Linked DNA regions of Homo sapiens. The protein of the gene in region 1 interacts with the protein of each later gene in a biochemical or structural test. Each region holds a gene or a part of one and is shown in the gene's direction. Other genes may lie near its edges. The genes, in order: GNB5, RGS6, RGS11 and GNG2.

Evidence for each region.
Region 2: the proteins of GNB5 (region 1) and RGS6 form a complex in vitro, tested with the Homo sapiens proteins (one study listed by BioGRID).
Region 3: the proteins of GNB5 (region 1) and RGS11 form a complex in vitro, tested with the Homo sapiens proteins (one study listed by BioGRID).
Region 4: the proteins of GNB5 (region 1) and GNG2 form a complex in vitro, tested with the Homo sapiens proteins (one study listed by BioGRID).

What each region holds. Positions count from the first base shown.
Region 1 is NC_000015.10:52,132,224-52,139,518, reverse strand, and holds part of GNB5 (guanine nucleotide-binding protein subunit beta-5), read left to right. Parts: intron 1-3,762; coding exon 3,763-3,906; intron 3,907-6,049; coding exon 6,050-6,141; intron 6,142-7,295. UniProt on the Homo sapiens protein: Enhances GTPase-activating protein (GAP) activity of regulator of G protein signaling (RGS) proteins, such as RGS7 and RGS9, hence involved in the termination of the signaling initiated by the G protein coupled receptors (GPCRs) by accelerating the GTP hydrolysis on the G-alpha subunits, thereby promoting their inactivation.
Region 2 is NC_000014.9:71,935,256-71,942,550, forward strand, and holds part of RGS6 (regulator of G-protein signaling 6), read left to right. Parts: intron 1-7,295. UniProt on the Homo sapiens protein: Regulates G protein-coupled receptor signaling cascades. Inhibits signal transduction by increasing the GTPase activity of G protein alpha subunits, thereby driving them into their inactive GDP-bound form. The RGS6/GNB5 dimer enhances GNAO1 GTPase activity.
Region 3 is NC_000016.10:272,715-279,899, reverse strand, and holds the start of RGS11 (regulator of G-protein signaling 11), read left to right. Parts: upstream 1-3,955; 5' UTR 3,956-3,988; coding exon 3,989-4,051; exon of another isoform or gene 4,052-4,062; intron 4,063-4,401; coding exon 4,402-4,498; intron 4,499-4,560; exon of another isoform or gene 4,561-4,566; coding exon 4,567-4,617; intron 4,618-4,817; coding exon 4,818-4,924; coding exon of another isoform or gene 4,925-4,943; intron 4,944-5,001; coding exon of another isoform or gene 5,002-5,097; intron 5,098-5,634; coding exon 5,635-5,686; intron 5,687-5,798; coding exon 5,799-5,857; intron 5,858-6,063; coding exon 6,064-6,140; intron 6,141-6,343; coding exon 6,344-6,425; intron 6,426-6,968; coding exon 6,969-7,037; intron 7,038-7,185. UniProt on the Homo sapiens protein: Inhibits signal transduction by increasing the GTPase activity of G protein alpha subunits thereby driving them into their inactive GDP-bound form.
Region 4 is NC_000014.9:51,863,480-51,870,774, forward strand, and holds part of GNG2 (guanine nucleotide-binding protein G(I)/G(S)/G(O) subunit gamma-2 precursor), read left to right. Parts: intron 1-7,295. UniProt on the Homo sapiens protein: Guanine nucleotide-binding proteins (G proteins) are involved as a modulator or transducer in various transmembrane signaling systems.

The sequences.
Region 1 (7,295 bases):
GTCCCTGGTAAATATCAGTAAGCGTTAACTCTTATTATTTGTTTGTTTGTTTGTTTGTTTTTTGAGACAGGGTCTCACTCTAGTACCCAGGCTGGAGTACAGTGGCACAGTCTGGGCTCACTGAAGCCTCCACCACCCAGGCTCAAGTGATTCTCCTGCCTCAGCCTCCCAAGTAGCTGGTAGGCCTGTAGTGGGTCTGCAAGCACACGCCACCATGCCTGGCTAATTTTTGTATTTTTTGTAGTGATGGGGTCTTGGTGTGTTGCCCTGGCTGATCTTGAACTCCAGAGCTCAAGCAATCCACTTGCCTTTGCCTCCCAAAGTGCTGGGATTATAGGCGTGAGCCACTGCACCCAGCCAATTTTATTATTATTAACACAAAGCTTCATGGATGATGCTGATACATGGCCTAGTTTGGGTACTACTGAACTCATGAACCTCCAGCTTTCTTCAATCCCTGGGATCTAGGTTGATAAAAGAGAAACTCAAGCGGCTGGTATGAGACTATGGTATTAAACTTACAAATTCTCTGCATTCCAGAACAAATGAGTGACAATGAGTTAGGGGTTCTGTTTAATGCATTTATATGAATAAATGTTTGGTCTTTAAACTTTATTTTTACTTATATTATAATGAAGATCAGAAACACAAAATTGAAAAGTATTAGAAATCTACTTTTAACTTTTAAAAACTATTCATTTCTTTGATCAAACAGTATGGTATGAAAATTTCCTAAATTAAAGAGCAAGACTGGGGTAGTTGCTTAAAGAAAATTGTTTGGACCTGGTGTCTCAAAATAAACTGTAAGTTACTGCAAGTGTTATTAGGAAAGCAGTGAGTTGGAACAGCCACTAGTGGGTGTGGGCCAGGAGAGATTGAGGGAATTTGAGCATCCAACAAAATATGAGTACCCAAATTTCAGCCTCGGTTCAGGTTTTGTGTGTCCATAAGCTACTTTGCTAGCTTAAGTCATCTTGTTGGATGTATGCAGGCCTCCTGAGGGAAGTCAAGGCTGGAGGGGGTCCTGTGGACAGCCAGTGGGTGCAACACCAGGGCGGGAGCAGATTCCCCTCCTTGTAATTTGTTCCTTCCCTGCAAAAAAAGAAAAAAAAATGAGTTTTTTTTTTTTTTTTTTTGAGACCAAGTCTCACTCTGTTGCCCAGGCTGGAGTACAGTGGCGTGATCTCAGCTCACTGCAACCTCCGCCTCCCAGGTTCAAGCGATTCTAGTGCCTCAGCCTTCCAAGTAGCTGGGACAACAGGCGTGAGCCACTACAACTGGCTAATTTTTGTATTTTTAGTAGAGTTGGAGTTTTACCATGTTGGCCAGGCTGGTCTTGAACTCCTGACCTTGGGTGATCCGCCCACCTCAGCCTCCCAAAGTGCTGGGAAAAAAATGAGATTCTTTATGTTCAAGGCCTAACATATAAGAGAGAGGGGAAGAAAAAGGGAAAGGGGGCAAAGGGTGAGGAGGAGAGATCCCATCAGCAGCTGGAAATTGAAGGTGTGGTGTGGTCAGTGGTTGCATTGCATGCTAGCGGTGCATAAGGCCTGATTCCTCTTTTCTTTCCTCAGCCATCAGTAATCATCCGCAAAGGGCTCTCTTGTGGACACTTATGCTGCAAGAGCCACTTCCTCCACGGTCTTATCACCTCACCCAGGCCCTGTGGAGCAGCCAGAAGGCAGGGAGAGCTTCTCCCTTGCAGGTCCCCTCCATTGCTGTCAGTACCCAGCTGGCTCCAGGGCTCTGTGATGCCGCCAGCTGGGCCTATGAGGGCCCCGAACCCTGAGTCCTCACTGCCTTTCTCCCAATCCCAGGAAGGTATGCTCAGCCAGAGCCCAGGCCTCATACACACTGGCAGTGACAAAAAGTAAAATTCCAGCCCTGTCCCCATGTCTTTCCCTGGGCACCCCTGTGTGCCTTTACTCTATGGCTGACCTTTGTACTTGTAAGCTATCCAGAGGCTCTTTGGGCCTCTGCCAGAGTTTCCTAAAACATACGTTTGCTTTTCTCATTCTCCTGCCCAGAAGCTTCCAGAGTGCTCTCTTGGCTTCAGACTGAGTCCCCACCTGTGAACGGGCTCACCTTTCATTTAGTGCAGACATAGGCCCCCCTGGAGTTTGTCTCTCCCCTTCCCTTCTTTCACCTGGCCAGCTCTCACTCTTCCTTGAAGACCAACTCAGATATCACCACACTGGGTTTGGGACCCTCCTGTGTGCACACCTGGATCCCAGCACTTCTCATGCTGTTGTCATTGATCCTTGTCTACTGGTGATGTCAACTCCCCAAGCGAACATCAGAAATACTTGCAACCAAGCAAAGCTAAGGTTATCTGACCTGCCACAGTAAGGGAGAACCTCCACTTGGCAGAATCTTAGTAGGTTCTGAAAATGGAGGAATTAGGGAAGGGTACTTAGAGGATTTCAGGGTCCAGGCTTGGTGATTTTAAGGTGGGTCTTGCAAGGCCGTTTTAGCTTTGGATTGGTGAGCCCAGCAAGCGAACAGTCTTTGAGTCTGGATGAGCAAGCTGTTAATCTTGGTAAGTTGTCTAATCGATTCACAGTCTTTTCTCCCAGGAGCAGGTATTTTCTGCAGCAAGCAGTTAAGTTATTTTTACTTGGTCTCAATATGGTTTAACATAGTAACAGGAAAGTTGGCCTGGTCCCAGAATTGTTTAACACAGGGATGGGGAATTATGTTGGTTTCATTCTTACTGGCAATCCTATTAAACTGAGTTCTGGGAGAACAGAAACTGAGACACAATCTTTCTGCAAACCCTCATGCATTAGCAGAGTGCCTGGCAGACACTGTCAGCACACAGCAGATGTTTCTTGAACCTGTGTATGCGTGAATATCCTCTGGCACCCGTCAGTGGTCCTGGGAAGCCTCTGGGCAGCACTGTGCTCGGGAAAAGCAGCAACAGAGAATGTCCAACAAGATGCTGCCTAGACCCCTGCTGCTCCCAGTGTGCCCCGTGACCAGCCTCAGCATTCCCTGGGAGCCTGTGAGAAGTGTAGACGCTCAGGCCCCACCCCAGACTCTATTAGCAAGCAGCCCAGTGATGTGTATGCATCAGTATCCAAGAAGCACTTTAAGTTTTTGGCCTGCACAGCAGTGGGAGGCATCGAAGGTTTTAAACACTCAGTAGAGACTCACGGAACACTTCCTACGAGCCAGGCATGTGTAGAGCCCTGTAGGTACCACCATGAGGCCGCCAGGATTTCAGCTCTGCTGGGAGGCAGGCATATAAACACAACTCAAGGACTGTGAGGGTAGGAAATGCACTCTTTCCTTCTTTGTATAGAAGAGAGATTTCTGTGCATGAACCCAGATACAGCAGGTAGGGTGTGTGTGTGTGTGTGTGTGTGTGTGTGTGTGTGTGTGTGTGTGTGTGTGTGTGTGTGTTTTCTGCTTTTCCCTGTGTGTGTGTGTGTGTGTGTGTGTGTGTGTGTGTTCTGCTTTTCCCTGCAAAACGTTAAGCCTCTGATTGACTGCCCCCGGCATAAGCAATAACCACAACCATATAAACACAACTCAAGGACTGTGAGGGTGTAGGAAATGCACTCTTTCCTTCTTTGTATAGGAGAGAGATTTCTGTGCATGAACCCAGATACAGCAGGTAGGGTGTGTGTGTGTGTGTGTGTGTGTGTGTGTGTGTGTGTGTGTTCTGCTTTTCCCTGCGGAACGTTAAGCCTCTGATTGACTGCCCCCGGCATAAGCAATAACCACAACCACCCACTTCCTGTCCTTTTCTGCGGGCAGATCCTGACAGCGAGCGGCGATGGCACATGTGCCCTGTGGGACGTGGAGAGCGGGCAGCTGCTGCAGAGCTTCCACGGACATGGGGCTGACGTCCTCTGCTTGGACCTGGCCCCCTCAGAAACTGGAAACACCTTCGTGTCTGGGGTAAAGACCCAGTGGAAATTCCCTAGGGCTCCTGTGTCCACTAAGGAGGCTTATGGTGGCAGTTCTTGTCCATTCATGGGATTAGCCTAGGCACTTCCCTAGAAGGGGCTGCAGGAATTGTTCTCAACTCCCCACTAAACCCCCAGCTCCTGCAGTGACCGCACTGGCTCCAGGCCCCTCTCGGGGGCTTGGTGGGCAGCTACAGGGCTAAGCTGTGAGGGCCTCCTTCTGTTCTGCCACTGATGTTAGCAGTCTATAGAGTAATCTGGAATGTTCTCCTGTATGAGTGCTGCAACTCAAGGTGCATATCTGCCACATTTTAAAATGTCATTCCTCAAGTAAATAGCAGAGAGTTAGCATCTGAGAGCATCAGAGATGCGCACAAGGGCATGGCAGGTCAGATGGCTACTGAGCTGAGGCAACGCTGTGATGCCACCAGGACTTTGAGGCCTGTGGGGCACTCTCCTACCCTACCCCTGCCAGCCACCATCCTCCCTCCCATCACAGGGTGCAAGAAACAGAGGCTTTGAAAGCTCAGAATTGGCAGACAGGGCCACAGAGACTCAGAGAAGCACTAGACTAGGAGTCAGGGTGCCTGGGTCAGGGCTTTGCTACCTGACTGTAAGTCGCATCCGCTATAAGTTGGCCATAGTGCATAGTGGTATTTGCACTTCCCCTCCCCAGGATGGTACAAGCAGTAGATGGAAGAGTTTGCAGTGTGTATGCAAATGGGAGGGGCAAGTCTTTCTGGGGCCAGCCTGAGAATAAGGACAGAGAGCTGGGCCAGCTGACCTTACCATGGGTCCTGTCTCACCTCCGTCAGGAGGCAGTGGTGAGACAGGACAGTGACGCACACACTGTCAGGTGACTTCTGCAGCTGGGACACATAAGGGACCTTTGCTCCAGGCTGCCCACATATCGATCCTGGGAGCCAGGCCAGGGCTGTATGAGCTGTAGTTAGCAGGGACCCTGATTTTCTTCCTGGGTATTTGGCCATGTGTAGATGTTTCAACCCTGTGCCTTGGTATCACTGTATTTATCTCTCCTCAACTCTACTGTGTTTTTAAAAAATTACTGCTATTACTGTAGATCATATTGTCTCTTTCAGAGCACTAAACTGCATCCAATTGAGTGTCCTCTAAAGATGTGAAGGCCTTTCTGGTTTCTTTGCCCACATTTTCAGTAAAGACACTCGGGATGCTGAACTCCCACAGCGGGCCTTCCTCAGATGTGTGATGGTGCTTCATTACACACCTCCCTCTGCTCCAAGTTGAAACCAACAACTTAGACACCAGTTTTAAGCTGTTACTTTTTAGCTGTTTGATCATATAAGCTATTTGACTATTGAGAGTCCACATTCTACTACTTAAGCTTGATAACATGACCACTCTGCAGGAACTTATCAAACTACTCCCAGAGCCTTGATAGGATAATGGAAAAACCCTCATGTCTGTGACCTTCTGGGTCATGTTAGCAACCTGAAGAGAGCATTGACTTTATAGGTGTTGAGGCAGACGCCCAGGGAGGTGACTTGCCTAAGCCACCCTGCGCGTCGATGGCAGCACCCTTATGGGCCCCTGGTTTGCAGATTCCCAGCCCAGCATGCTGCTGAGGGTGCAGATGGCCCGGGGCACCTGGCTCTCCAGCTTTGCTGAGGGCTGCCCCATACACCAAAACAAAGCTGGGACTCTCGGCTGCTCCATTTGGGCACTGCCAACCCATTTATTAATGTCACAACTAGAGAGGTCCCACCACACACCACTGCCTGCCTGCCTTGCCCTCTGGGCTTAGGGAGGCAAGTATAAAGAGAAGAGAGAAAAGAAGGAAAAATGAAAGGAAGGGAGATGCCCGGGGGAGGGTAAGGAGGGTTTGCCTCCATTCAGAAATGTGCAAAAGAAGAAAACAAGCTAAAAGAGGAAGCCGAGTGCCTTCCCTCCTGCCTCCCATCCCAAGACCTAGTTCTAGGCGTCTAAGGGCTTTCTGACTAAGGAAAGTGCCCTCAGGTAAAGCTAGTCTCAGAAAAGTGTGTTGTCAACCATTTGCTAATGGGAAATAAATGGTCTGTGTTATATAACTGGGACTCGTGCCTTGTCTATAGACATTCCTTAAAGTGGCCATAACTCTGGCTAATTTTCATTTGTAGGGATGTGACAAGAAAGCCATGGTGTGGGACATGCGCTCCGGCCAGTGCGTGCAGGCCTTTGAAACACATGAATCTGACATCAACAGTGTCCGGTCAGTGAGTAGAATGTTCATGCCACCTCTCTGTTCTGCCGGCATTGCCTGGCTTGGGTAATCCTTAGCCCAGGAACCGCCTCCAGACTCAGTTTACTTGGCTGAGAGAGGCCTCCCCGGGAAGAAAGGCTGATTGTGGTGGAACTGAACAGTGCTCCAGAACTCATGGAGAATTTTAATTTAATTACATTAGGAGCAATTAATATCCTCCCTAAGTTGAATCAGCATTTTTCATCCATTCATTCAATAAATATTTATTAAGTATTTATATGCTAGATATTATTCTAGGAACTGGGAATATATCAGTGAACAAGATGGACAAGGTCTCTATTCTCTTACAGGAGACAAACTAGACCAAACACAAATATACAATTTCAGATACTGATAACTACTATGATAAAAGTAAAACAGGGAGATGGGATGGGTCATTTCTTAGAGGTCAAAGACAGCCTCACTGAGAAGGTGATCTTTACATTGAGGCCAGGATCATGAAAGAGCCAGGCAAGCAAAGAGCTGGGGGAAGAGCACAGAGATGAGAGGTTAAGGGACCTAACAAAAGGCCAGGTGGTCACTGGAGAGTTTTGAGTTGGGAGGGGTAGGGGTGGCTAACCTGATCATGTTTTGCCTTTAAAAGATCGCTCTGTTGGGAAGCTGAGGCGGGCAGATTGCTTGAGCCCAGGAGTTCGAGACAAGGCTAGGCAACATGGCTCAACCCTGTCTCTACCAAAAAAAAAAAAAAAATTAGCAGGGCATGGTGATGTGTGGAGGAGGCTGAAGTGGGAGGATCGATTGAACCCAGGAGATTGAGGCTACAGTGAGCCGAGATGGTGCCATTGCACTCCAGCCTAGGCAACAGAGCAAGACCGTGTCTCAAAAAAAAAAAAAAAAACCCAAACAAACAAAAAAGATCACTGGCTGTATGGAGAATACATTGTAGGGAACAAGAATGGAAATATGATGACCAGTTAGAGGTGGTTGTGTGAGTTCAAGAAAGAAATGATGGTGACTGGAACTAAGGAAGACATGGTGGAGACAGAGAAATGTCAAGAATTATGAAATATCTGAGATTTTATCTACCTACAAGTTAACAAGTTGGGCTGTCATAGCTCATGGATGCTGGTAGAAGACACAAGACTCCTGGGTCAGAGATGAAG
Region 2 (7,295 bases), on another chromosome or scaffold:
ATTTAGCTATTGAAACAGTTCAGGAAAATACAAAGAAAAAAATAAAGGTTATCCATAATCTGCTAGGGAGAGGGAGCCACTGTTAACATATCTTTAACTGTATATTCTTCCAAATATTATTCTAGTCAATTATTTCTACCCAGTCCCCCTCCCCCACACATTTTTATAAATATAAAATATAGCTTGGAAATATAACTTGGAAATGTGTTAAAGGCTTGGGAATTTACTGCTTGTTTACAGAATGATTTTGATCAGATATTAGTTTTTACTGGTGGTCCTTATTTTCAAAAAGAGTAGGTTCTTTCTTTTTCTGTTCTTTGAAAACAAGTGTTTGCACTTTGGGCTGGTAATGCTTGGGGCTTCCTTTTGAATTTAGGGATTAAAGCATCAGAAAAGAAGTAGAAAGGTCATTGGCCATTGTGGGTGGGAGACCTGAGTTCTGGTTGCAGTTACTCCAACTTCTCCTGTGGCCTCTGGGCCTCTGTTTCCCTAAAGGGCAAAAGGTACTTTTAGATTTAACTAATTAAGCTAATGACGTATTTATTGCTTTGACATGAGAATGATCTTTGAAGAGGGCTTATTCAAACACAGAAACACCTGGGGGTCATCCTGGGAGTCTCTGATTGATTCTGTCTGAGATGGGGCCCGAGAAGGTACATATCTAACAAGTCCCTGGATGATGCTGACTGCTGGTTTGGTGACAGTGAAAACTAGAGGGTTAAGTGTACTAGGGTTCTCTTAGAGGGACAGAACTAATAGGATATATATATATATATATATATATATGTACATATATATCATATATACATATATGCTATATATATGCTATACATGATATATATACATATGATATATGTACATATACCATATATCTATAAAGGGGAGTTTATTAAGTATTAACTTACATGGTCCCAAGGTCCCACAATAGGCTGGCTGTAAGCTGAGGAGCAAGGAGAGCCAGTCCAAGTCTCAAAACTAAAGAAATTGGAGTCAGATGTTTGAGGGCAGGAAGCATCCAGCATGGGAGAAAGATGTAGGGTGGGAGGCTAGGCTCATTTCTCCTTTTCATGTTTTTCTGCCTCCTTTATATTCGCTGGAAGCTGATTAGGTTGTGCCCACCAGATTAAGGGTGGATCTGCCTTCCACAGCCCACTGACACAAATGTTTAATCTCTTTTGGGCAACACCCACACGGACACACCCAGGATCAATACTCTGTATCTCTCAATGCAATCAAGGTGACACTCAGTATTAACCATCAAAAGCCCACCCCTTGTCAACTTGAACCCATACATATCTCCTGAGATCATACATAATCTTCAAATAAAGACAATAATGAGGTCAAAATTGTGCATAACATAATACAACTATCCTTTGTACAACCAGAAATGCACCAATCCCCAATGCAAATACTATTACATAAAGTTAACAATACTTACATGCTGTTGTGAAGTCAATAAATCTTATGTCACATGATAAAGGAAAAGGAAATGAAGATATTTTCTTAGTATGAGTGTATATATACACAAACATGTTTTTAACAAAAGAAGGAGGAAATACTCTTGACAATTACAGTCTGTTTCTGCAGCTGGTCACATGGTCGTAGCTGGTATTGATGACTACCTTCTTCTACCCATTCAGTATTCCTTTTGCCTACAGCAAGCACCTCAGCAGGTTCTTTTCCCTGGTGGAGTGACCCAAACCTTTATTCCTGAAGGATCTGGACCATTTGTAGTCCCGCCTGGATTGGGCTGTTGTAGTTTCCTGTTGACCTTAATCACAGGGCATGGTAATACTGAGAGATGCCCTAATGGATTTCCTGTGTTCCATATGTAGTCTTCCTTACCTCTGCTGTGGAGTAGTAGACTGATTTCCTCTTGATAGTCCAGGTCAATCATGCCAGCCAACACAGTAATTTTCTTCTTAGCCTGTTGACTGAAAGATAGGAGTATCCCAAACTGTCCAGGTGGCAATCTTAACTTCCAGTTTAATGGAATCGTTGTGTTTCCTGGTGGCAGTGTTCCTCCCTCTGGAACTAAGATCTCTAGGCCAGCAGAAGGTAATGTCTTGGGAACAGGAAGCAAAAATTTTGCTAGTGGATCAGTAGGGGTGATGGTGAGTGGTGCCACTTCCACTTCCGCCCCTTGATTCCTGGACCTGTGAATCCTGGCTATAGGAGAAACAGTACCATATATTGGATGCTGATTCAGAGCATACACGGCCCTCTGGAGAACTCTGCCCCAGCCCTGCAAAGTATTGTCACCTAGTTGGCATTGTAATTGTGACTTCGAAAGGCCATTCCACCATTCTATCAATATAACTGCTTCAGGATGATGGGGAGCATGGTAAGACCAGTGAATTCCATGAGCATGAACCCACTGCCACACTTCTTTGGCCATAAAGTGAGTGCCTTGGTCAGAGACAATGCTGCATGGAATACCACGATGGTGGATAAGGCATTCCGTGAGTCCACAGATGGTAGTCTTGGCAGAAGCATTGTGTGCAGGATAGGCAAACCCATATCCGGAGTAAATGTCTATTCCAGTGAGGACAAACCTCTGCCCTTTCCATGATGGAAGAAGTCCAGTATAATCAACCTGCCACCAGGTAGCTGGCTGATCACCCTGAGGGATAGTGCCATATGGAGGGGTCAGTGTTGGTCTCTGCTGCTGGCAATTTGGGCACTCAGCAGTGATCATAGCCAGGTCAGCCTTGGTGAGTGGAAGTCCGTGTTGCTGAGCCCATGCATAACCTCCATCCCTGCCACCATGGCCACTTTGTTCATGGGCCCATTGGGTGGTGACGGGTGGCTGGGGAAAGAGGCTGAGTGGTGTCCACAGAACAGGTCATCCTATTCACCTGATTATTAAACTCCTCCTCTGCTGAGGTCACCCGTTGGTGAGCACTTACATGGGATACAGATAGCTTCACAGTTTTTGACCACTCAGAAAGGTCCATCCACATAACTTTTTCCCAAATTTCTTTGTCACCAATTTTTCAATCATGCTTCTTCCAAGTCCCTGACCATCCAGCCAAGCCATTGGCTACAGCCCATGAATTGATATATAATCGCATATTGGGCCATTTCTCCTTCCATGCAAAGTGCACAGCTAGGTGCACTGCTTGAAGTTCTGCCCACTGGGAAGATTTCCCTTCACCTCTGTCCTTCAGAGATGTCCTAGAAAAGGCCTGTAGTGCTGCAGCTGTCCACTTTTGGGTGGTGCCTGCATATCGTGCAGAACCATCTGTGAACAGGCCCTAGTCTTCTCCTCCTCTGTCAACTGATGATAGGGAACTCCCCATGAGGCCGTGGGTGCAGGCTAGGGGAGAGAAGGCAGGGTGGCAGGAGTGGAGACCATGGGCACTTGAGCCACTTCCTCATGTAACTTACTTGTGCCTTCAGGACTTGCCTGAGTCAGATCACGTATATACCACTTCCATTTGATGATGGGATGCTGCTGTGCACAACCCACTTTATGGCTAGATGGGTCAGAAAGCACCCAGTTCATGATAGAAAGTTCAGGTTGCATGGTGACTTGATGACCCAGTCAAACGTTCAGTTTCCACCAAAGCCCAGTAATAGGCCAAGAGCTGTCTCTCAAAAGGAGAGTAGTTACCTGCAGAAGATGACAGGGCCTTGCTGCAAAGTCCTAGAGTACTCCACTGTGATTCACCTATGGGCGCCTGCCAAAGGCTCCAAACAGCATCCCTATCTGCCACTGACAACTCAAGCACCATTGGATCTGCTGGATCATATGTCCCAAGTGGCAGAGCAGCTTGCATAGCAGCCTGGACCTGTTGCAGAACCTTCTCCTGTTCTGGACCCCACTCAAAACTGGCAGCCTTTCGGGTCACTCAATAAATGGGCCGGAGTAACACACCCAAATGAGGAATGTGTTGCCTCCAAAATCCAAATAGGCCCACTAAGTGTTGTGCCTCTTTCTTGGTTGTAGGAGGGGCCAAATGCAGCAACTTATCCTTCACCTTAGAAGGAATATCTCAACAGGCCCCACACCACTGGACCCCTAGAAATTTTATTGGGGTAGAAGGTCCCTGAATTTTAGTTGGATTTCTTATCCTCTGGCTTGCAAATGTCTCACCAGTAAGTCCAGTGTGTTTGCTACCTCTTGTTCTCTGGATCCAATCAGCATAACGTCAATGTAATGGACCAGAGTGATATCTTGTGGAAGCAAAAAGTGATCAAGGTCTCTCTGAATAAGATTATGACACAAAGCCAGAGAGTTGATATACCCCTGAGGTAGGACAGTAAAGGTATATTGCTAGCCTTGCCAGCTGAAGGCAAATTGCTTCTAGTGGGCCTTATGGACAGGAATGGAGAAAAAGGCATTTGCCAAGTCAATGGCTGCATACCAAGTACTAGGAGATGTGTTAATTTGCTCAAGCAATGAAACCACATCTGGTACAGCAGCTGCAATTGGCATCACCACTTGGTTAAACTTATGATAATCCACTATCATTCTCCAAGATGCATCTGTCTTCTGCACAGGCCAAATGGGAGAGTCAAATGGGAATGTGGTGGGAATCACCATCCCTGCATCTTTCAAGTCCCTGTTGGTGGCACTAATCTCCTCAGTCCCTCCAGGCACATGATACTGTTTTTGATTTGCTATTTTTCTAGGTAGAGGCATCTCTAATGGCTTCCATTTGGGCTTTCCCCCCATAATAGCCGTCACCCTACTAGTCAGCCAATGTGGGGGTTCTGCCAGCTGCTAAGTATGCCTATGCCAATTATGCATTCTGGCCCTGGGGAAATGACCACAGGATAAGTCCAGGGACCCACTGGACACACTATAAGCTGGACCTGAGCTAAAACTCCATTAATTATCTGACTTGCATAAGCCCCTAGCTTAAATGGAGGACCACAATGATGTTTTGGGTCCCCTGGAATCAATGTCAGCTCAGAGCCAGTGTCCAGTAGTCCCCGAAATGTCTGATCATTTTCCTTTCCCGAGTGCAGTTACCCTGGTAAAAGACCAGAGGTCTCCTTGGGGAAAGATGAGAGAAAGATCTACTGCATAAATTTTCAGTCATGTAGTGGAGTCCTTCCTTAAGGGGACCCAGCCTCCCCTTTGTCCAAAGGGTTCTGGGTCTGTAAACTGGCTCAAGTCTGGAAATTGAATGAGGAGCCGTGATTCTCTGTTTTTATAATTCAAATTAGTCTTTTGTCCATTCAACCTAGAAGTTTTCTGTTTGTGTAATTGAAGTAGGAATGCAGTAGGCTTCCTATCAATTTCACTTTTAGGAACACCATGATTAATTAGCCAATGCCAGAGCTCTACATGAGTCAGACTATTCTGATTGCCACTTTGCCTCTGCTGTCCATTATGGTAGTTATGCTCACCTTGCCTTTGATGGTTGAGTGCTGCCACTTGACCCCTGCCACCTGGTCCCTGCCACCTCTGGATCCAATTATTCCCATTTTGTAGTTGAGTGACTGTGGTTCCCACCATTAGATCTGACATACAGAGAATGGCAATTACAGGGCTCTTCAAAGATGCAGGTGCTGCCCTCCCAAGTCTATTTTGCAAGGCATTGGTCAAGGGTATATCTTCTGGACCCTCCCAGCTGGGATGAGTAGGTCTAAAGGGACTAATCCACTCCACCACCCCAATCTCCCTAAGCCTTTGGATTCCTTCCTGTACATTAAGCCAAGGGAGATCAGGCATTTCCAGCTCACTCACAGTGGGCCGCCTTTAAGAGCTTGTGTCTATTTTTCCACAATTTCGGCTCTTTCTCTAGGAGATAAGACTCTCACTTAGTGTAATCTTAGCAGATTTGAGGCTCAGTATCTGCTTCTGAAGCTGGGAGACAGAATCCCTGAGTTCATCATTTTCTTTCATCACTTTGTCCGTTGAACTTAAGAGCAGCCAACCTGCTTCACTGTGTTCCTTGGTTCTCCACATATGGTCAAATGTGCTATGTACAGAGTCGCTAAACTCCCTGCCTCTCATGAGCGGTGAATTAGGAGTGTCAAAGGCATTTATTTTGCATAACTCTCTAAACAGTTTCTGCCAAGGACTATCAGTGTTTTCTATACTATTAGAAGTAGAGTCCTTAGCATTTTTGGGTCTAATCATATTAAGCAGCCAACTCCAGAAACCCCAAAACCAACGAAAGAACTCCATTCTTAATATTCTGTTCATCTAGAACCACTCCTGGTACCAAAATCTGTATTAGGTTTCTCTTAGAGGGATATAACTAATAAGATATATATGTCTTAGGGAGTTTATTAAGTATTCACTTACACAATCACAAGGTCCCACAATAGGCTATCTGTAAGCTGAGGAGCAAGGACAGCCAGTCCAAGTCCCAAAACTGAAGAACTTGGAGTCAGATGTTTGAGGGCAGGAAGTATCTAGCATGGGAGAAAGATGTAGGCTGGGAGGCTAGGCTCCTCTCTCCTTTTCATGTTTTTCTGCCTGCTTTATATTCGCTGGAAGCTGATTAGATTGTGCCCACCAGATTAAGGGTGGATCTGCCTTCCCCAGCCCAATGACTCACATATTTAATCTCTTTTGGGCAACACCCACACAGACACACCCAGGATCAATACTCCGTATCCCTCAGTGCAATCAAGTTGACACTCAGTATTAACCATCACAGTAAGCTCCTTACAGGCCAAAATGCCTGTTTGACTTTTCACAGGCTTTCACAGTAAGCTCCTTACAGGCCAAAAAGCCTGTTTGACTTTTCTTTGCAGCCATCCATCCAGTGCCCCAAAATATACCTGCCAATAGGTGTTCAGTAAGCATTGGTTGAATCAATATTAGTTTTCTCTTATGGAGGAATATCTTTCTGGAGTAGTCAAGACAAAAGAATAATCATCCAGAATTTGGAAACATTAAGCCTGTAATAAGAGTTATAATCATTCATGGACCACACTACTTCAAACTGCAAAGAAAGCAAAAATGCTTATAAGTAGGCAATTAAATTGAACATTAAACCTAATGAGTTACATTAAATAATAACTAGGAATACCTGTTTGAGATGTTACAAACCACAAAGCCTACCAAATACTTCACCGTTACCTCTCTCAGGTCTGGAAGAGGCCATTTATTTTCTACCACATACACATATTTCAAAAAATGGAAGTTTCACTATTAATTACCCTAATTACCAAGGCAGCAGATAAAGCAAGCAATCTCCTTGCTCCCCTCTCCTCATCCCCCATCCCTCCCACCAAGAAAAAAGGCTCATTAGAACTCTACCACCATTCTATAAGATAGGTCCCAATTTTATGAATGAAGAAATGTAAAACTTTAGAGAAAGAAATTA
Region 3 (7,185 bases), on another chromosome or scaffold:
GGAGCACAGAGGGGGCTTCTGATATTGACACCTAAACTGAGACCTGTGGGTGGGTGGGGGGGATGGGACCCGGCAGGGGACAGGGGTGAGCAGGCCCTGGCTGGGACAGCTGGACCAAAGGCCTGCGTCTGGATAAGGGAGAAGGGGTCCGAACACCAGCCTGAGTCCCTTTCTTAGACACCCCTGGCCGGTTCCAGGGACACCAGAAATTAGACCCGCCCTTGCCAAAGAGCTCCTCAATTGAGAGAAGACCACCTTGGGTGCTAGGGGGCATTGGGGTTTGGGTGGGGACTGTCTCCCTTGCCCCCCAACTGCCCACAACCTTTCCAGGGCAGGATCCTATGAACTTGTGCCCAGGCCCCCCTAGAGCGCCACCTCTGCTGACCCTTCGCTGCAGGGAGCGGGGGCTGTTAGGACACTTGTCCCCAGGCCCACAGCTCCAGCTCCTGCAGCTGTTACCAGATAGAAGGTCTTGGAGGTGAGTTGTCCAGGTTCTTGGTGGGTTGAACAAAGAATTGAACAAAACGCACAAAGTAACAAAAGAACAACGAAACACAAGGAAACAAAACTGAGTCAGAAGAACGGAGTAAGGAAAGCACAGATTTAACGGAAGGCAATTCACAGAGTGGGAGTGGGCTGGAGCAAGTAGCTCCAGAGCCTCTGTAATTAGGATTTTTATTAAGCAAAGAAACCTGACCACAGCCCTTGTGCCCTTTAGAGGCCTCCAATTGGCTACACCCTATGAAGGATTGGCCCGAGACCAATCAGAGGTGAAGTGGAAATTTCTGTCTTGTTATCACAGCAGCCAGGATGTGGCTTGTGAGCTGCCCAATCCTGCCTAGAACTGGCTGCACCTGCTGTTCCGTTTCTTATGCCCAACCCTTGGCTACCCTCATTCCCTATTCTGCCTCACAGCTACCATGGGTGCCCACCCCTGCAGACAGGGCAGCCAGACCTGGGCCACCTCACCCCACCTGGGTGTGGGGCATGGGAGGGCTCACTGGGATCCAAGCGAGATGGTACCCTGGAGTAAGAGACCCCACAAGCCCCCTGCCCCAGCTCATGCTGAACGTGGCCTCTCCGGCAATGGAAATGGACTCAGACCACTATGTTAGGGGCTCCCAGCCCAAGGCCAACCGCCCACCCTGCCCAGCCCCTAGCACCCTCTGAGTGGGTAAGGATGGGGAGAGGTACTCTGCCTCCAAGAAAGCAGAAATAGACCAGATGCGGTGGTACACATCTGTAGTCCCAGCTACTCAGGACGCTGGGGTGGGAGAATCACTTGAGCTCAGGAGTTTGAGGCTGCAATGAGTTTATGATTGCACCACTGCACTCCAGCCTGGGTGACAGAATGAGACTGCCATCTCTCAAAAAATAAATACATAGCCAGGTGCCATGGCTCATGCCTGTAATCCCAACATTTGGGAGGCTGAGGCAGGAGGATCACTTGAGGCCAGGAGTTCAAGATCAGCCAGCCTAGGCAACACAGCAAGAAACTGAGGCCCTTACAGACAGGGATAAGCGAGGGGCTACGTGTATATTTATCTACAAAAATAAAAATGAAATTAAAAAAAAAATTAGTGGCCAGGTGCGGTGGCTCATGCCTGTAATCCCAGCACTTTGGGAGGCCAAGGCAGGTGGATCACTTGAGGTCAGGAAGTTTGATACCAGCCTGGCCAACACGGTGAAACCCCATCTCTACTAAAAATGCAAAAAAAAAAACAAAAAAAAAAATTAGCCGGGCATGGTGGCGCATGCCTCTGATCCCACCTACTTGGGAGCTGAGGCAAGAGAATCGCTTGAACCCAGGAGGCGGAGGTTGCAGTGACCCGAGATTGCACCATTGCACTCCAGCCTAGGCAACAAGAGTGAAACTCCATCTCAAAATAAATAAATAAATAATTTAAAAAATAAAGAAAGCAAGCAGAAATAGATGCATTTGCACCTTTTAAAAATGGTGCTGAGGCTGGGCTCGGTGGCTCAGGCCTGTAATCCCAGCACTTCGGGAGGCCGAGGTGGGCAGATCGCCTAAGGTCAGGAGTTCAAGACCAGCCTGGCCAACAAGGTGAAATGCTGTCTCTACTAAAAATACAAAAATTAGCCAAGCGTGGTGGCGGGGGCCTGTAATCTCAGCTACTCAGGAGGCTGAGGCAGGAGAATTGCTTGAATCTGGGAGGAGGAGGTTGCAGTGAGACGAGATTGCGCCATTGCACTCCAGCCTGACAGAGCAAGACTCAGTCTCAAAAAAAAAAAAAAAAAAAAGATGCTGGCTGGGCATGCCTTTAATCCCAGCACGCTGGGAAGCTGAGGCAGGAGGATGGACTGAGCCCAGGAGTTTGTGACCACCTTGGGCAACATAGTGAGACCTCGACTTAGTTTTTAAAAAATGATCCGACCGGGTGTGGTGGCTCACACCTGTCATCCCAGAACTTTGGGAGGCCAAGGCAGGTGGATCACCTGAAGTCAGGAGTTTGAGACCAGCCTGGCCAACATGGTGAAACCCCATCTCTACTAAACATACCAAAATCGGCCAGGCACAGTGGCTCACACCTATAAGCCTAGCACTTTGGGAGGCCAAGGCAGGCACATCACCTGAGGTCAGGAGTTCGAAACCAGCCTGGCCAACGTGGTGAATCCCTATCTCTACTAAAAATACAAAAATTAGCTGGGTGTGGTGGCGCGTGCCTGTAATCCCAGCTACCTAGGAGGCTGAGACAGGAGAATCGCTGGAACCCAGGAGGCGGAGGCTGCAGTGAGCCAAGACCGCATCACTGCACTCCAGCTTGGGTGACACAGTGAGACTCCGTCTCAAAAACAAAAACAAAAATAAAAATTAGCCAGGCGTGGTGGTGGGAGCCTGTAATCCCAGCTACTCAGGAGGCTGAGGCATGAGAATTGCTTGAATTCAGGAGGCGGAGGTTGCAGTGAGCCGAGACTGCCCGGTGGGGCCTGAAGATCCTGGGCCTGGCTCGGGGTGCACCTGGGGGACAGGCATAGCCATTGGAGGAGGGAGAGAGCTGGGAGTGGAGTGGGGCCTGAAGCCTGGCGGCCGCCGGTGACACTAAGTGGGTGTGTGTTGAGGGCCTCCCTGCAGTAAAGCTCCTCTCCAACAGTGTCAGGGTGCCCTGGGCAGGGTTTCTGCTCATTCCCCAGCGGGCCACCCAGGCCTGCGTGGAGCTGAGGGAAGTGAGCCATGAGCCATCAGCCACTTTCCCGGAAGGACCCCGGATAAGGGACCCACAGCAGGAGATGGGGACAGCTGGGTCACACTCTGCAGCAGCCACGTGCTCCACTGACAGCCGGCATCCGGCCCATGTAGAAAGCTGACCCAATCTCTCATGCACCCTGCCCCTAACCAGCCACCGTCACAGCAATGTATGCAGTCTTGGCCACAAGCATCGCAGGACACAAGGCCTCGGGCAGTCATACCGCTGGCCCTGGCCCCGGCCCCACAGCCAGGCCTCTAGTCCCTGTATGTCCTCAGGGCCCCACACATAGGACCGGGGTTACAGTGGGCCCTAAACCACGTTTCCCACCCCAGTTCACTCTCCCTACGGGTCTCCTCTACTCACGGAACCCCTCTCCCTCTCTGAACCCCCATCCCCTCCGCTGCCCTCCCTGAGACCCTCCCCATAGTAACCCCCCCTCGCTGATGAGCCCCTCTGCCTCTCCCAGAGACCACCCCCTGCTCCAGCTGAGCTCCATCCCCTCACATCCCCCCTCGGCCCCCGGCCCACACCCTCCCCCGTCCCACTTCGCCTTCACCCACGAGGGCCTCAGCGTCCCGGGACCTGGGTCGGGGGGGTGACTCGGGTCGCTCGTGGGGGGCCGGCTCGTTTGCCTCTGGGCCGTGGCCGTGTCTCTTAAAACCCGAACCGGGGCCTGGGCGACTCTGGCCTCGCGGCCCGAGGGTTAACCCGGGCGCGGCGCGGCGCGGGGCGGGGCCGGGCGGGACGTCGGTCATCCCCGCCGGCCTCGCCCCGCAGCCATGGCCGCCGGCCCCGCGCCGCCCCCCGGCCGCCCCCGGGCGCAGATGCCGCATCTGAGGAAGGTGCGAGGCGGGTGGGTGTCCCGCCGTCCCCCGATTTCCCGGCGCCCGAGGCCGGGAGGGGCCGGAGAGCATGGGGACACGGGGGCGCGCGGGGCGGGGCGGGCCTGGGGCGGAGGTCTGCGAGGCCGGGAGGGGCGGCGAGGCCTGGGGCCCTTGGGGGTCTCCGGGGTCTCCCCGGCCCTCCCCGGCCCTCCCCGGCCCGCCCCGCGTCCCCGCCGCCAGCTGCGGCCTGGAATCCGCCGCCGCCGCGCGTTAATCTCCGCGCTCCCGGATCCGGGGCATCCCGGCCGGTGCCAGGGAATCAGGGTTGCGGGGCGGCCAGACACCCCCTGACGACTCCCTCCGCCCAGATGGAGCGGGTGGTCGTGAGCATGCAGGACCCCGACCAGGGCGTGAAGATGCGGAGCCAGCGCCTGCTGGTCACCGTCATTCCCCACGCGGTGACAGGTGAGGCGCGCCGGGGCGGGGGTGCGTGCGCGCCTCGGCCTCCCTCCACCTCTGTCTCTCCCGTGCAGGCAGCGACGTCGTGCAGTGGTTGGCCCAGAAGTTCTGCGTCTCGGAGGAGGGTGAGCGCCCTGCCTCCCACTGGGCCCTGGGGTCACTGGGCTGGTGGCCTAGGCCTGGGTTTTCCTGGAGTCTGGCAGTTCTCAGAGCCCTGCTGAGCGCGCTGTGCAAGGGTGGGGAGCACATAGGGGAGAGGAGGCCCGGCTCGTCCCGCCCTCGCCCGCTTCCGCGGCCCCGCGCTCACCGTCCCACCCCTCCCCAGAGGCCCTGCACCTGGGCGCCGTCCTGGTGCAGCATGGCTACATCTACCCGCTGCGCGACCCCCGTAGCCTCATGCTCCGGCCAGACGAGACGCCCTACAGGTTCCAGGTCAGGCTCGGGGGTGCAGGTGGGAGCCGGTGGGACCCCCACCCCCACCCACCCAGCTTACCAACTCGGGGAGACAGGAGGGGCGCCGAGCTTGCTGGGATTGGAGTGGGACTCCGCCATGTCGCCGTGGGCTGGTGGTCCATCGCCCCCTCCCCAAAAGTCCTGGACCGCAAGTACGGATGTGGTGAGAAGGACCCGGCTGAGGGATGGAGCCTCAGTTTTCCTGGGGACCACAGCAGGGCCCCACAAGGGGTCGTATGTGCAGAGGATTCTGCCATCTTCCTGGGGGTCCCTAGGCCCAGGTCCTGAGGGAGGGGCTGTGAAGGCCTGAGGACAGCATTCCTGCCCTCCCTAACCACATCAGGGTCCCGGGCCGACCTGCCGTCGGTTGTACCCCTCCCCAGGCACAGACTGTGACTACATCCAAGACTTGTGCAGGCCCCCAGCCCCACCCCGCCTTGAATGGGGGCTTAGGGTGACCAGTGAGGGAGGCAGTGTCTGAACAGGGCCCTAAGGAGCGAGTTGACCTCAGTTCTAGTTGGAGAGACTGGCCAGTGGTCAGTGGAGTCTCTCGGTGGTGGGCAGGCAGGGAGATCCTCAGACACCTCCTGCCCAGCCCAGGCTTCTTCCCAGGGAGGTCTGAGGGTGGGGTGACACTGGGGAGGCACAGACGCAGGCGTCCTGGACACCTTCTCCCTGCACCACGCCAGACCCCGTACTTCTGGACAAGTACCCTGAGGCCGGCTGCAGAGCTGGACTATGGTGAGCAAGGGGACGGCTGGCCCCAGACAAGTTCCCAGGACTGGGGGCCTCAGGGTGATGCCGTGAGGCAGGGCAGAGCTGGCCCCTCTGCAGGCTGTCCCTGTTCTTCCAGCCATCTACCTGGCCAAGAAGAACATCCGAAAACGGGGGACCCTGGTGGATTATGAGAAGGTGGGACCCCCCACCCTTCCCGCCCCGGCTGGGTACAGCTGGAGGAACCCAAGCCTCACTCACGGCCCCCCGGGGCTTCACGGTTTACCCCAGAACATACAGCCCAGGCCCCAAAACCCAAGACAGTCCCCAACCCCCCAACTGCCCACACAGTCTCACTGGGGGCAGGGGCCGGGGTGACCCACTGGAAACCTCGCTGCCCCCAGGACTGCTATGACCGGCTACACAAGAAGATCAACCACGCATGGGACCTGGTGCTGATGCAGGCGAGGGAGCAGCTGAGGTGAGGCCCCGCCCTGCCCCGCCCCGCCTGCAGGCGCCCAACCCAGGCTACCCGGGAAGCCCAGCCCAGGCCAGGCTCCGGTGGCCCTGGGACCGTGGAGGGCACCCCTGGGTGTGGCTGCCTGCCCAGGTCCAGGCCTGAGGGTGGGGGCGGAGGGGCTGCTGTGTGCAGGGCGTGCCCTCAACTCGGCCTCCTCCTCCCAGGGCAGCCAAGCAGCGCAGCAAGGGGGACAGGCTGGTCATTGCGTGCCAGGAGCAGACCTACTGGCTGGTGAACAGGCCCCCGGTGAGCCCACCTGCGGTGAGGGTGGGGGTCGCTGGCCAGCGCAGGGGTCAGCGTGCTTCCCTGACAGGCGCTCTCAGGACCACCATTTTGAGCCTGTGGAAGGACCTGCCTTGGAGCTCCTGGTGGGGGCAGGACGTTTTCACTTCGTGACTTAGTTGCGTTTCTGCCAATCAGAACCCAGGTCTCCATCCCTAGACCACAGGACAAGCCAGCTTCTCTCTGGGCCCAAGGGAGAGTCACAGGGATGCCAGATTGCGGGGACTGCAGACTCTGCCTCGGGAGCAGGCAGAGTGGGGGCGGCCTTGGCTGCAGTGGGGGGACCGAGTTCACAGGCCGGGAGCAGCTGGGGCTGTGGGGAGGCCCGGTGGACAGGCCATTTGGAGGTGGTGAGCAGAGAAGAGACAGCTGACGGCTAGGTCGGGACTCTTCCCGAGTTCCTTTGAGTGTCAGTTTCCACATGGGGGTCTGGGAGGGGGAACTTAGCCTTAAAGGGGGTCAGCCACCGGAACTGCATCCCCACCTCATCTCGTCTCCCCTCCGCAGCCCGGGGCCCCCGATGTGCTGGAGCAGGGTCCAGGGCGGGGATCCTGCGCTGCCAGCCGTGTGCTCATGGTGAGCCCCTGCGTGCGTGCTGGCCGCCCTCTCACCCTGCACACCGGCTGCACCCTGCTGGACGCACCATGGGACTGCCCATCTGTCCGTCATTTGGTCCACCCAGAGGGCACTTGGTGCAGCCTCCCCAAGCCCCTGCTCACTCCCG
Region 4 (7,295 bases), on another chromosome or scaffold:
TTACCACTGCCTCACAGGTTTAGGGAGACTTTTTTTATAGTGATAAAATATACATAACATAACATTTCCCATTTTAACTATTTTTTTAAGTATGCAGTTCTGTGGTAGCGAGTACATTGATGTGCTGTCATCACCACCGTCCATCCATAGAACTGTCTTTATCTTGCAAAACTGAAATTCTATACCCATTAATCAATACCTCCTCTTTCCCTCCTTCTCTCAGCTCCTGGAAACCCCCATTTTACTTCTGTCTCTATGAATGTGACCAAGTATCCCATATATGTGAAGTCATACAATATTTGTCCTTTTGTGACTGGCTTAATACACTTAGCATAATGTCTTTAAGATTCATCAATGTTGTAGCATGTGCTAGAATTTCCTTCCTGTTTAAGCTGAATAATATTCCATTGAATGTATAGACTATACTTTGTTTATTCTCTTTTGATGGACACTCGGGCCATGTTTTGGCTATTGTAAATAATACTGCTATGAACACGGGTGTACAAATATCTGTTAGAGTCCCTGCTTTTACTTCTTTTGGGAACCCAGAAGTGAAAATGATGGAACACAGTAATTATATATTTAATTTTTGAAGAATTGCCATACTGTTTTCCATAGCAGCTGCACTATTTTACATTCCCACCAGCAATGAACAAGGATTCCAACTTCTCCACATTCTCATCAATATTTATTTTGTTTTTTATTTATGTTTTTGATAATAGCCATTTTAAGAGGTATGAAGTGGTATCTCTTTATGGTTTTGATGAGCATTTTCCTAATCACTAGTGATGTTGAGCATCTTTTCTTGTGCTCATTGGCCATTTGTATATCTTCTTAGAAAAATGTCTATTCATATTCCTTGCTGATGTTTTTCCCCAGAAATACTGTGTTGAGAATATTTGCAAATTTTTAATCAAATTTTTGAAGAGACATTTGCAAATGGCAGGATCTTTTAACATAATGTGTCATTAGATAATAATCATAATCTTCGTATTTAACCTCCTTTATACAACAGTATTATCCCTGCGTAAATAAAATACTCCTCTCAAAAGTAACATTTGAAATCAAAAGGACAGAGTAAGAAAATGTGCATAGCTTCTGCTAGTTGGTGATGTCCAGAACCTGATAGTGAAATTCAAACCTTTATTGTAGACAGTCACACCAGTGATTCTGCTGGTCAAATCTCAGACCAGGCTACCACTACGGAGGCACTGGAGAGCTGTTTCTTCAGTGCTTTTCTGGTCCCCTCATTAGAGAAAAATGCTCAGTAGGTATCATGGCCAGAAAGGGAGGGGAGAAACTAAAGTACTAAATTGCTCTGAAATCCTTTATAAGGGGGAGCAGTAACTTGTGGGGAGGGGCTACAGTAGTTAAACAATACAACAAGTTTCTGAGACAACAAGTTTCTACTAATGAAGTGTGATCCTAACCAAAATTTCACTTTTAAAAATAATGAATCCTCTGTTTCCTTTTCCACGACAGATTTTACTCCTAATCCTTAAACTGGTGAGGCAGGGTATGGTGAGGCTGAGGAGAGCTGGGCAGAACAATTAGCAGGGACCCTATTGAATAGCAACAGTATCTGAGCTTTACGATGTGGGGTCAGACGTTGACCTTGAATGGTTTGAAGAGCTCCTGAATAATTAATGTTAACTTTCTGTAATGCACTTTGTCCATGTGCTGGGGGCCAGGGGTGGAGGGAAGTTTGCAAATAATGACCCCTAATTTTATTTAATGTGCACATCTATTCATTCTACAATTACTGGGAGAAGCCAGGTGCCTGTCTTTACTAGATCTGGGTGGGAGAGGAGAGTTGCAGAGCTGTGTCGAGATTTAGTCTCCACCCTCCCACCCTCACCTCCAAGATGATGACTATGTTAATTAGCCTGATTTGATCATCACAATGTATACATGTATCAAAACATCACATTGTACCCCATAAATATACACAATTTTTATTTTTCAATTAAAAATATAATAAAAAATTTATAAAGGACTTAGTCCCTGGCCTAGGACATGCTAGAATGGTAGAGCTAAAAATGATCTGGGGGGTGACCTAGCCTATATTGACCTCTTCATAAGGGATAATAAAATAGGCCTGGAATTTAGAGTTAAACAGTTCATTAATTCCTCACCTCCCAGTTACAACTCCATTTCACTTACCTCATATTAGGGCAAAGTCTTTATATGTTGTCACATTTAAAATTGTTTGTAAGACTAAAATATTTTGTTTAAAAAAAAAGAGTAGACGGTTTACATTTAGTACCCTATGTAAATATGGAGTTTCTGTGTACAAACTTGTTCAGGTGTGAAAGATGCCACTGTGGAATAGAGATTTAAATTTTCAGGTAAGAGTATTAGAGATATCTGTAAATATATGGTTCTTGAAAATTCTTATGTTAAAGACAACAAGTTGTATTTAGTGGGAGTCAGTGTTCAGACAATCTCTAGAGGACTTCATTAAACACTGAAAAAAAAAAAAGGGAGCTCAATTCTCAAACTTTAGTGATAACATGTTTCTTAGAAGTGGTACTACTGTATACAGAGGCTGGAGATAAGACAGGATCAGCCCCTTTATCTCTTGGCAAATATGTGTAAACAGTCAAGCTGTTAATGAAAAAGCTTTGAAAAACCAGTCTCTTGACCACTTCTTCCCTGTTCCCTGGCCTTCCCTTGCTCCCTGGCCAGCCCGGGTGTGGGGTCAGGCATTCCCCTGATCCTCTTCCCAGGAACCCAGCACTCAGAGGTAGAGGAGAGGGGCTGAAAACTGGGCTGACTGGTTCTACTCTAGATTCACTGCATCTCCGCAGGGCCATTGCTGTTCTTTCAAAATTCTTTCCTTCTTCCTTTTTTATTTCACTTTTCACTCTGTCCTGTGCATTTTCAATGGAAACCATTCAACCAAGTCCCTACTGCCTTTGTGCGTTAGAAGTGACCTCACTTTCTGTCTTTCTGAGAAGGCACATATTACAGACTTCCTCAACCTCATTCTTACCACCTTAGAATTTCCCCACGTCTTCCTTTATTTTAGATCATTTGAATTGCTGTCACAAATTACCAAAGATGAGGTAACCCAGAAACAACAGAAATCTTTTTTTTTTTTTACACTTCTATGGGCTGGAAAGTCCAAGATCAAGGTACTGGCAGATTTGATGTCTGGCAAAGGCCGTGGACAGCACTTTCTGTGTGTCCCCACATGACAGAAGGGGCCAGCTGGCTCTCTCCAGTCTCTCTTATAAGGGCACTAATCCCATTCATGGGACTCCATACTCATGACCCAATCACCTCCAAAGGTGGCCTCATGTCCTAATACCATTGCACTGGGGATCAGGTTCCAACATATGGGTATGTAGGGGGACAGAAAGATCTGCGTCATTCACATCATTCATTCTCCTCTTCCTCCTAAGTCAAATTAACATCATCTTTCCTTTAAGCCAAGAATAAACCCTCTACTTGGACTCTCTATCCCATTCCCTTTTACTTTCTAAGGGATTATGTTGTGACAATAATTCTGTCTTTCCTACATATTTAGTTTCTTCTCTTTCTTGGTCCTTTCCTCTTTCCCTGTAAACATGCTTAGTTTTTCCATACGCACACAAAGTAATTAAGAAGTAGATGAAACAAATCTCCTCCTACCTCTCTGCGGGCTCCAACTTCACTAACTTCAGTTCCTGCTCCCCAAATATGAGTGTTCTCAAGATACGAGTCTTTGGCCATTTAATTTCTCCCTCTCCCTAATCAAATTCTGTCCTGTGATTTTAGTCACTGTTGCTGTGTGGGTCAGTCCCAAATCTGATGAAGCATCCTAATCATTCACCTCCTCTCTCAGCTTGTACAGCAAGCTGCCTGCAAATTCACCAGAACATCCAACCCACAGAAAATGAAACTCACATGTCCAAAACTGTGCTCACCATCACCTTTCCCACTCCTCAAAACCAGCTCCTCACCTGATTTCATAATTGTTAATGACACCCCATTTATCATTACCTCAGTTATGACAATTCAACTTCACTGTCTTCCTCACCAAGCACCTCTAGTTGCAGGAAGTTGCATGGCTCCTTGCAATTGTGATTGGGAAAATATCTTGATACTGACTCTTTTCCATGTTTATAGCCGGTGTCTTAGTTGAGGCCCTCCTAACCTCCAGCTGGGCTGACTTGTTTTTTGAGTTCTTTTCTCTCCGCCTAGGATAAGTTAGTTCCTGCTTCCCCTTCCACACTTTGTCCCCACAGTCTTACTTCTCTGAATAACCAAATTCCATCTGTCCTGTAAAGCTCAGTTCAAATGCTGCCTCTTTCATGAAGCCTCCCTTGGTTTCTTCCCTTTTTTCCCCAATAAAAAAACAATGCTCCTCTGAAATCTTTTGTTCTTTCATCACAGCATCTAGCTCATTCTAGTGTGTATAACAGCAATCTGCATAATTTTTTTTTTTGACCACACTCCAAGCTCTTTGAGGACAGCGGTCACATCTGGTTTCATCTTTGTCTTCCTTATACCACACAATGCAGTTTGTTTATCATTCATTTATTTAATGAACATTCTTGAGTGACTCATTTTTTGATGCAGAGTGGGCTAGACATAGTACTTGTCCTCTAAGAGCTCACAAACTCATGGGGAAAACAGACAAATACAGAAATATAATTACAATAGAATTAATCGATGTGTTCAAAGTCCTAATGTCTGCAATGTGCCATGTGCTCGTCAAGATGCCAGGGAGACTAGGATGAACAAAACTGGTCGGTTGTTTTCTTGAAACTTACATTCGAGTATTGAGAGAGACTCAGTAAACACATAAACCAGTGGTTTTTAGGTCTAACTGCACATTAGAAATCACTGAGAGGGTAGTTTGAAAAAAATATCATGTCCCAACCTCACCTCAGAGTAATTAAATCAGAATCAACCAGGATTGGAACCATTGACAGAAATGACTTACAATAAAAGAAAATGTCAAGTAGTAGTGAGTGCTTTGATGGATTGAAGTAGAAACAGGGTGAATGGTGGGACTGTGCCTATGCTGGCAGGGGTAATTGGGAGATTACTTTGTTGAGTAATCCCTGAAGGCCTCTCTGAAGAGGTGACATTTGAGTTGAGACCAAAATGATGCTGAGGATTCAGCCATGTAAAGATATTGGGGCGAAGGGGGCTTGTGGAGAAGGTTTTGAGCAGAAGGTGCAGGTGCCTTTCTGAAATAAGAATGAGGTGAGATTTCAGAGGAAATGTGTCCTTCTTCACATACATGTTCTGTAATCTACAAACTATGTCTTTTTCCCTACAGAAAGCAGCTTTTCGATAAACTTTGTAGACTCCAAATGCAGAACACTTGGCTGCTGTGTTGATTACTTGATCTGGGTTGGATTTTATTTAGTTCAAATTGATTTACACAGTCAGGAAGACTACTCTGTTTGATTACATTTTTTTCTCTACACTGCAATCAGCACTACACTACTTGTCTGAATTAAATACCATTCTTATTGTTTAAAATAACCTTAGGTACTTGATATTATCTTTATTTGAATAAAGAGGAGAAAGCAATGACTTCTGCCCTTATTCCTGTTTTGGGGAACCAGGGAAAGCCTCCTAGAGGAGTCATTCAGACCACACAGAGTAAAGAAAGCACTAACTAATTTGAATAAGTGAAGACTAACATATGTCAAGAATTAAGTTGAGAATGAACATTTGTTAGGCATTCAGTTTGTGCTGGATACTTTAGCTAGTTTTAAAAATAACCCTACGAAATAAGGACAATATTTTTCTATCAGGATATTTCTGGCTGCTGATAAAGGAATGTCCTACTAAAATGGCGTAAGCAATAGGAAATTGATCGCAAGACCTCTGATAGGAGGGTAGCTTCAGAGTTACTTATGTGGTAGCTGGATAATGTCCTTAGCAACCTGGATTCTTCCCTTCCTCCCACTGTGACACCTTCAGCAGGTTGATTTCCCCTCACTGTGTGGACATGGCGTCTACAATTTTGGAATTATAGGCATATTTCAATACGTAGAGGCATATCAAGGTGCAGCAGATTTCTTATGTGGCTCTTTCTGGTTTGTTGAAACAGGGCCTCGGTCTGTCACCCAGGCTGGGGTGCAGTGGCATGATCATGACTCATTGCAGCCTCAGCCTGCAGGTGGGAGGCTGATCCTTTCACCTCAGCCTCCTGAGTAGCTGGGACCACAAGTGTGTGCCACCATGCCCAGCTAATTTTTGTATTTGAGTAAAGATGGGGTTTCACCGTGTTACCCAGACTGGTCTTGAACTCCTGAGCACAATAGATCCACCCACCTCGGCCTCCCAAAGTGCTGGGATTACAGGCCTGAGCTACCTTGCCCTGCCGCGGCTCTTTTTAAAGTCACAGAAAATCTGTGTCCAGTGGAATTTCCACTCACAACTCACATGCTATATGTATGAGTAAGTAGGCAGACAGAACCACTGTGATTGGCTAATTTAAGAGTTTCCTCCCGAGGCCATGGAGCAGCCCAGGCTCGCTGAAGAACAAAGTCATCAGACCCCAGCAAAAGGGTCTGGTTCTATTAGCAAGGAAGAGGGGGTTAGTGGGTAGGCAGTCAATAGAGTTGGCCACTATTATTATTCCCATTTTATAAGTGAAGATATCCAGACTAAAAAGGTTAAATAACTGAGCAATATCATACAACATTGAATTGAACAAAGTTTCCATGCATTTCCCTTTGAGAAAAACACGAACAAAAGCCTTGTTTTTGGCTATATAACAAACCTGCACGTGTACCCCTGAACCTAAAAGAAAATATTAAGAAAAAAAAAACAACTTGTTTTTGTTGTTAGCAATGATCTAGGTAGGCCAGAGGAAGAATCCTGGCGAAAAACACAGACTGGAGAAAGCTAGGCAAAGTAAAGAATAACCTTCTAAACAAAATATTCCAGAAGGAAATACATCAGGTCCTATAAAGCAATAAGAATGGCATTTAATTTAGACAACCAGCCCTGCATTTCTGCATTGTAAAATATATATATAATTAAATTGCATTTTCCTGACTGGTCATTTAAATCAATTTGGTCTATATAAAAATCTACCCTGGGCCAAGTAATGAGCTAGAGACGCCAAGCATTCTGTGTATAGTATCTGTCAGACTTAAATGAAAACCTTGTTTTCTCTAGAGAGGTAGGTATTTTGTTGATTACAGTACCTGTAAAGAAGAATGGATCATCTCTGGAATTTCTGATTATGAGTTATTTAGAAAATAGTTTCCACTTTCCAGCTCCGGAGGCAGCATATACAGTTCCATTACTGTCGCATTCTCTTTATGGTTGCTGCTTCC